2 separate regions of the Homo sapiens genome follow, and region 2 is linked to region 1. The links come from fine-mapping of genetic effects on gene expression. A gene starts in region 1. The other region holds a variant in brackets. All regions are shown on one strand. Distances are from middle to middle.

Region 1 (4,396 bases):
ATAGTGGTCTTGGAAATGTAACATTTGCGCATGAAAACAGGAGTGCCTGTTCCCACTTAGGTCCGTGGGCACAGGTCCGAGGGTGGAGCCCTCGCCAGGGATCCTGCCCTTCTCTACCTAGCACTTCTCTGCCTCCTGTCCCTATCAATTTTGCCCAGTTGGAAGCTAATGTAAGTGTTCTCAACACGTTTAAGGTAGGCTACGCTGAGCCGTGATGTTTGGTAGGTCAGGTGTATTAAGTGCATTTTTGACTTAGCATATTTCAACTCACATTGGGTTTAACAGGGCCTAATTTGATCATGAGTAGAGGAGCACCTGCAGTTACTTCAGTCAGTTCCTGTCCATTTGATGGCTGCTTAGATGGAGGGATGAATTCCTGGAGTTTCCCACACCACCATCTTCTGTGACATCCCTTCCCCAAGATTTGGATTTATTTTTTGCCCCAGTGGCCTCTTGTAGCCTGATAAATCTTTGTTTCAACGAGGTCAAGGTCATGGGGTAAATTCTTTGTGGGGTGGTTGGCTGCATTTTGTTTAAACTTCACAGATTTTAGTACTGATCCTAATTTTTAATTTTACTAATGTGATATACACACTTATGTAATTAAAAAACAAACCCTGGGCCAGGTATGGTGGCACACGTCTGTAATCCCAGCACTTTCAGAGGCCAAGGCGGGCGGATCACTTGAGGTCAGGGGTTTGAGACCAGCCTGGCCAACATGGTGAAACCCCGTCTATACTAAAAATGCAAAAAATAGCTGGGCATCATGGCACGCGCCTGTAATCCCAGCCACTTGGGAGGCTGAGGTAGGAGAATCGCTTGAACCCGGGAGGTGGAGGTTGCAGTGAGCCCAGATTGCACCACTGCACTCCAGCCTGGGCGACAGAGCAAGACTCTGTCTCAAAGAAACAAACCAACCCTGAATGTGATTATATACATAATTCAATTAAATGTATTTGCTTCTGAAATATATATAAATGTAAATTAGGCAGTCACTTTTGTATATGATTTATTTATATTTGAAAGCCACAAATGACCCATTTAAACTATTATTTTCATAAGCCAGTGAAACAATGTCTGAGAAACATTTTTGTTTTGTCTGTTCTGTTCTATAACCATCATTTTTTTTTTCAGTCATGTACAGCCTTAGTGACAAAGAAACTTTGGTCCTCTGTCCTACATTTTCACTATCTTTTTCCCTCCGGTCAGGATAATCTCAAATTTACATGTTAAAAACAATCAGTAAGAGAACTACATCACATTTCTAATAGGATGGAAACTTTTCAACTTTATCACAAAGACAACGAATGTGGAGGCTTTCCGTTTGAAGATAAAACTATTCATTTAAAAAATTTTAAAAATTACAATGTTTCCAGTAGCTTCTTTTTGAATTACTAACATATTCCACACTCTAGTAACGGTTTGGCCAGCTAATCGTTAGTTTCTGCTTTAAAATGTTCTAAATTCCTGTTCTACTTTTGAAAAATGACAACATAAATGTTTGGAGGGTTATTTTCTGCTTAATGAAAGATCTAGAAACATATTTTATTCTAAGAAAGAATTCCACTTGCCTTTAAATAAAGATATACCTTTTGACCAAACAATCAGATTTTCTTTTTCTTTTTTTTCTTTTCTTTTTTTTTTTTGAGATGGAGTTTCGCGTCTGTCGCCCAGGCTGGAGTGTAGTGGTGCGATCCTGACTCACTGTAACTTCCACTTCCCAGGTTCAAACGATTCTGTTGCCTCAGCCTCCTGAGTAGCTGGGCTTACAGGTGTGCATGATCACACCCGGCTAACTTTTGTATTTTTAGTAGAGACGGGTTTTTGCCATGTTGACCAGGCTGGTTTCAAACTCCTGACCTCGGGTGATCTGACTGCCTCGGCCTCCCAAACTGCTGGGATTGCAGGCGTGAGCCATTGTGCCTGGCCAGATTTTCTTTTTCTAGCAAGGGGACCCACTTAAACTTGAAGAGGACCGGGATGGTTGAGGCTGGGCAGCAAGGCTTTACTGCAAATCCTTTACCACTGTTTTTTCTGGCTTTCTAGAGAACGTTCTAGCAAAAGGTTTCTAGAACTTTCTCCTTCCTGGCCTGACTGACATTCCCTCTTAGGTGTAGCCTCCTTTTCACTTTTCTTCTGCCTGGAGGAAATGAAGCTCCACGGAACTTTCTGTTGAAACTTTCCAAGAAAAAAAAGAAAGGCTCTAAGCACTGAATGTGGAAACTGAAGGGGATGAGCTTCAACTCTGAAGTGTTTCCAGCGTAAAACTGTCCTTTCCAGGGCCCGTGTGGCTGTCACTTCAGAGTGGAGGTTGTCTGCTGAGGGACCCCTGACTCAGCTGCTTCCCAGGGGAAGCTCCGTCTTCCGGCACAGGTAATGGCCTGCAGCTTGATCTCCACCCAGCCCCATCTGAGCAGGCCGGGAGCTCCCAGGCTGTTTCACTTCTCTCCTTCCTGACTCCTCACCATCACCATCGCCCTCTCTCCTCCCCACCCCGCCACTCCTCTCCCACACGTGTCCCTTTCTCCCCTTCCTCTGCGTCTGCTCTTCTCAGAAGTTAGCTTACGAAGCAAAGTTGTTACTTTGAATTCCTGTTTTTCCAGCCACCCTCATGTGACAGGATGTCTCCTCAGTAGAGGCTTTCCCTAAATTCAGGAGCCCTTTAAAAGGGAGGGCTTCCTCTGTAGTTCTTTTCAGCTGGGCAGCTCTGGGAACTTGGATTAGGTGGAGAGGCAGTTGGGGGGCCTCGTTGTTTTGCGTCTTAGTTCCGCCCTCCTGTCCATCAGGAGAAGGAAAGGATAAACCCTGGGCCATGAGGCTACCCCTGCTCCTGGTTTTTGCCTCTGTCATTCCGGGTGCTGTTCTCCTACTGGGTAAGTCTGCTCTGAGGCAGGGGATCTCTGACCTGGGGGGCCGGAACCACACCTTCCTCTTCTGGGTTACTGTGAATGGGTTCCTTTCAACATCTTTGTGAGGAGGAAACGGGGTTCCCCTGCACCACGCAGTCCACGGCTAAGCCTGCTGCCTTCACCTGGCGGCCAGGCATGGGAGGCCTGGAGTTGGAGGAGGGAGGAGGATGCGTCTCAGGTCTCGGTTGCTGCCCTGCCGGGAACCCTACAGACCTTCAGTGTCCTCCTGACTTCTCTCATCGCTCGTTGTTCCTTCCCTGTTTTCTTCGTGCAGAAATTTCCTGCTCTGTGGTTTACTCTTTCTGGTTTTCAATTCACACTATTTCTGTCTCACCGCCAACAAACACCTTCTGAGTGTCTCTGGCTGGAAGGAGGGCAGCCCTGATGTCTCCCCGCGTCTTAGGTCCGAGGGTATCATCGCAGATCATCCCCCCAAAAGAGATTCTAAGCAATTTCCATACTCATTTTTTTTTCTGCCAGAATCATTCAGACACTTGATTGTTAGAAAGTTCATCCTTATCTGTATTCTAGACTATTCAAACTGCCGCATAAGCAGATCGATTCCTGTTTTTCTTCTTTTTCTGGAGATTAGAGATTACTCATTAGGAACAGCTCCAGAGTTGTTCAAATTCTCAAATACCTTTTCCAGTCTGTCTTTTCTATTTCTCTATACTCAGTTGCTTAAACTTCAGGATGGGAGTGCCTCGGGGGATTTTCATTCCTGGTTCTATTTGGAGATGATTTAGAAGAGATTTCAAATTTGATTTTTTGATTTCTGATCCCCCTTTAATTCTATGAAATCAACAAACACTTGCAGAGAATGGTTTGTGCCTACGATCTACTCTATGCACTGATGTGAAGGCGGGTGGGAAGTTTCCTAGGAAGAGAGTGTTTTAGTACCGCAAATGTTAAATCATAAGTATTGAGTGGTAGTGATTACAAAAACACAAGTGAAGGCGGTATGGTTTACATCCTGTCTCTCTCACTCACTAGCTTTGCGACCTTGGGCAGGCTACTTTATTTCTTTGTGCTTTAGTTTCCATGTCTATAAAATGGAAAGAATAATATTACCTGCCCCCATCAGTTCTTGTGATGATTCAATGAGTAACAATATGTGAAATGTTTAGAACAGAGTATGACCCATAGTAAGTGCCTTATAAGTGTTAGCTATTAAAATCAGTGGCAGAAAAGAAGTACATAAAAGGCCAAATAAAAAGGATAGATGAAATTAATTTTATTTTTATTTTTGAGACAGATTCTCATTTTGTTGCCCAGGCTGCAGTGCAGTGGCATGATCTTGGCTCACTGCAACCTCTACTTCCTGGGTTCGAGTGATTCTCCTGCCTCGGCCTCCCAAGTAGCTGGGATTACAGGCATGCACCACCATGCCCAGCTGATTTTTGTAGTTTTAGTAGAGACAACGTTTCACCATGTTGGCCAGGCTGGCCTCGAACTCCTGACCTCAAGTGATCTGCCCTCCTCAGCCT
Region 2 (4,396 bases), 20 kb before region 1:
CTATCTAGAAGAACACCGCTTTTCTCATGTTCTGCTTCCACTTGCTATTTTGGGACCTTAAGTCCTTCTGTTTCTGGATGTGTGTGCATAGGTGGGGGGACTGGAGGGTTCTCAGGGCTTCTTCCTATGAGATCACAAACATGATCTTCTTGAAATTACACATCTGCCCTGATATGGTTTGGCTGTGTCGCCACCCAAATCTCAACTTGAATTGTATCTCCCAGAATTCTCACATGTTGTGGGAGGGTCCCAGGGGGAGGTAATTGAATCATAGGTAAACCTGACAGTAAATAAATACCTGTCTTTCCCATGCTATTCTCGTGATAGTGAATAAGCCTTATGAGATCTGATGGGTTTATCAGGGGTTTCCGCTTTTGCATCTTCTTCATTCTCTCTTGCTGCCGCCATGGAAGAAATGCCTTTCACCCTCTGCCATGATTGTGAGACCTCCCCAGCCATGTGGAACTGTAAGTCCAATTAAACCTCCTTTTCTTCCCAGTCTTGGGTAGGTCTTTATCAGCAGCATGAAAACGGACTAATACATGCCCTTTCTTCCCCCTGCCTGGTGACCCCTGACGCTACTGGTGCCTGGATGGTCTCTGGCATGCTTTGAAGCACTGCTGCTGCTGTTGGTGCCAACTGTCTGCCCAAGCACTGTGGACTGTGCCATGCCAGACAGCGCTGGCACCCTCTGTGGGGCCTGATGTCGCATTACATCCTCTCTTAGTGTTGAGCTAAGTCCCCTTAGTGTTGCCGGTCCCCAGCCTGTGCTGCCAGGTGCTCCCCATGTCTTCCAGGGTATGTTAGTGGAATCAATCGTCATGGCCTTGCTTAAGGGGCTCCCTCCAGGACTGGGCCATAGGGGCATCTGAGTGGTAGACTCTGTGCAGAGCTCCACATTTTTTACCCATTGACTCTACGGGAACCAGAGTCAATGGCTGGGCCGAGCTTTCATGCTTTGGCTTCCTTGCCTTAGTGCAGGTTTTTTCCCCAGAATGCTCATTGCTCCCTCATGCTAATAGATTCCAGAAAAGAAATTCCTCCCACCTTTTATTCAGCAAATCTTTATGGTGGATCTGTTCCATATCAATACCAGGCACTCCACTGGTGCTGGGGGTACAAAGCTGAGCAGAAACAGGCGAGGCTGCCTTTTGCGGAGCTCCTGGTCTAGACGCTCCAGGGCTCTTAAACTACACTAGTAAATATGCATAAACCAGGCTGACGGAGGTTCTTAAGAATGCAATGACTCAGGTTTAATCCATTATGCATCAGTTTCTGTCATCCACTCCTGCTGGGATTGCTAGCTCATGTCTGTATCCAAGCACTTAAAACTCCTGAGTATTTGGAATAAAGGAGGAAATACGGGTAGAGGCATTTCAGACCATTTCAAAGTATAGGATTATTTCTCTTTGGCAATGAGATAACTATATGCACCTTGACATTCTACCTTACTATGTATATATTTTTAAACATATTCAATGGTATATTATTTTTATATATATTATAAAATAAATAAATGTTTCAGGAACATTGATAAGAATAACAGAACATGAAGAATTCAGCATGAATTTATTTATATATTAGATATTTTGAGTAAAATATATCTAGAAATATATATCATTATAAGTAACATAAATAATATAATTACTTTTGTATAAAATATATTGTAAATTAAATAACATTTTCTAGTCTAACCATATATCTCTTGGGGAGAAGGACCACAATATGAATGAAAAGCTGAAGATTAGGAATTTTAGATTGGAACATTTTTTCAATATTTAAAAATGGAATATTTAAAAATTGATAATATTAAGATTTTAGCAACACTTGTCGAGTGTTAGATAAGTCTGTAAAGCAGCAGTAGAGGGAAAAATGATCTCTAAACCATCCAGTGGGCTGGGCATGGTGGCTCACACCTGTAATCCCAGCACTTTGGGAGGTTGAGGTGGGAGGGTTGCTTCAGCCCAGGAGTTCAAGACCAGCCTGAGTAACATAGCAAGACCCCATCTCTACAAAAAAAAAAAAGAAAAAAAAAAAGTTAAAAAATTTTAAACCACCTAGCTTTCTAGTTGTGTCCTCTGACAAAATAATTCTCTTAACATTTTATATTGTATAAGATACAGAAATGATACATTTATTTATTGTCAGATTTACACAATGAGTGGCATGGAACTGAAATGGGATCTTAGGGTTTTTGAATTTACTGGACAACAATCTCATGCTTTCTGTAAAGAAAGTTGCCGCAACTATTTCACAGCTGGGAATGCATGCCCACAGGCTTTTCCAGAGCTGATGACGGGTTGAATATTTGTCTTGAATTCATTATTATTTGTTGAAAACTTGTACACAGTTTTGAGCACAGGCAGTAGTAGTATACTGGTCAGTGTTTAATCA[G/A]TTGCCTTTGTGGAGTGGGGTTGAGGAGTGGGGAAGTCCTGATTTGTAACATTTGCCAGTGTCTGTGGTGTAAATTCTCCCACTATGACCGATTTCAAGCTACCAAGGTGGTATCACTGAACACTGATAATGGAATTAGGAAGAGATACACACAAGAGACTCTTGTTAGCTGGTGTAAGCTGCCTTCACCTGTGTAGGTTATATCTGTAGGGTAGCATTTTTCTTTGTGATGTGAACAGGCAAATATAAGAAACTCATGATCTTGTTTAGTCTCTGTAGTGTGACAGTCTTTCTCTAACTTGTGACCTCCCCTGATATACCAGATAATGAGTTATAGTGTAACTATAGCCAAAGTTAAACAAATTATAGTCACTCTTACTATTTACTGCAACCTAATATATTCTATTCTGTCCCAATTAATTTAAAACAATTAATTATTTCACTATTGCTACTTTTTATTTATTTAACACATACATGACCATTCTATATGCCAAACACTATTTTTAAGTGCTTTACAGATGCTGACGAATTCCTTCACTGTGAGGTTGATGTCCCATTTCATCATTTATTGCTTGGCAATATTACTTGTCTTCCCTACCTCAGTGAGAGTATGTCAAAATAACAGTGTTTAGCTGGGTGTGGAGGCTCATGCTTGTAATTCCAGTGCGTTGGGAGGCTGAGGCAGAAGGATCGCTTGAGGCCAGGTGTTCAAGACCAGCCTGGGCAACATAGTGAGATCTCCATCTCTACAAAAAATTAAAAAATGAGCCAGGGCCGGGCACGGTGGCTCACGCCTGTAATCGCAGCACTCTGGGAGGCCTAGGAGGAGGATCCCGAGGTCAGGAGATTGAGACCATCCTGGCTAACATGGTGAAACCCCATCTCTACTAAAAATACAAAAAAAAATTAGCCGGGCGTGGGGGCGGGCGCCTGTAGTCCCAGCTACTCGGGAGGCTGAGGCAGAAGAAAGGCATGAACCCGGGAGGCGGAGCTTGCAGTGATTCAAGATCGCGCCATGGCACTCCAGCCTGGGCGACAGAGCGGGACTCCGTCTCAAAAAAAGAAAAGAATAAAACAAAAAAACAAAAAACGAACAAAACAAAACAAAAAAATGAGCCAGGCGTCATAGCGCATGCCTGTAGTCCCAGCTACTTGGGATTCTGAGGTGGGAGGATCGCGTTTGCCCAGGACATCAAAGCTGCAATGAGCCAGGATTGTACCACTGCACTCCACTCTGGGTAGAGAAAGACGCAGTCTCAAAAATAATAAATAAATAAATAAATGATGAAGCTGAAGTTCTGCTTTCTAAGGTTTAGTTCAGAGTGCTGTATTTGAATGGAAGCTGCTAGAAGGGTGAGAATCATACCTATTGATTGTTGCGTCTTCCACAATTCCTAGTACAGTATCTTAGACATTGTAAGTGTTTGAGACAGGGAATAAACGAATGGATGAATGAGTGAGCCTGTAGTCCCAGATAGTTGGGAGGCTGGGGCAGGAGGATCGCTTGAGCCCAGAAGCTTGAGGCTGCAGTGAGCTATGATTGTGGCAACAGAGTGAGACCATGTCTCTAAAGTAAATAAATAAATGAATAAAGAAATAAATAACAGTGTTTCTAATTTACCTTGAAGTGTATTTTAATTTATTGCCTTTTTCCCTTTGTCCTCTGAAATTATTATGACTACCACTGCTTTGTGTGCCGAATGTTTTTTCAAAAATCATTTTAAAAGGACTGGTAATTTTCTTCTGCTCCATATATTTTTCTCAGTGTTATGCCTAAATCATTCATTTTTAGATTCCTCTAACCATTTTCCCCTTGGGAGAAATAGATTTGGGGGATTACCCTAAGACTAGCCATATTTGTTTCTGAGTAATTATGTTTTGGCTGCTGTGAATTGGGTAACAATCTCTTTGCACATCAGCTGCCTCTGCTGACTTCTGTGTCTTCATTCTACTGCCTCACATTCGCCTCTAAGTTGCTACTTTTGCAACAACCTAATAAACT

Evidence for each region. PIP is the estimated chance that this variant, and not a neighbour inherited with it, causes the effect. A credible set is the group of variants that fine-mapping cannot tell apart.
Region 2: its variant is the best candidate, but not a certain one, in a credible set for the expression of MRC1 in whole blood (INTERVAL, PIP 0.88).

What each region holds. Positions count from the first base shown.
Region 1 is chr10:17,806,654-17,811,049 of GRCh38, forward strand. MRC1 (mannose receptor C-type 1) reads left to right here and starts at 2,695. Exons shown (of 30, transcript NM_002438.4): 1 at 2,695-2,873. The coding sequence starts at 2,813.
Region 2 is chr10:17,786,575-17,790,970 of GRCh38, forward strand. The region is part of intron 3 of TMEM236 (transmembrane protein 236); the gene reads left to right. Among named protein-coding and RNA genes, the nearest start is that of MRC1, 21 kb to the right of the region's middle. RefSeq lists an enhancer at 786-1,403. The variant G/A (reference allele first, on the strand shown) is at 2,395.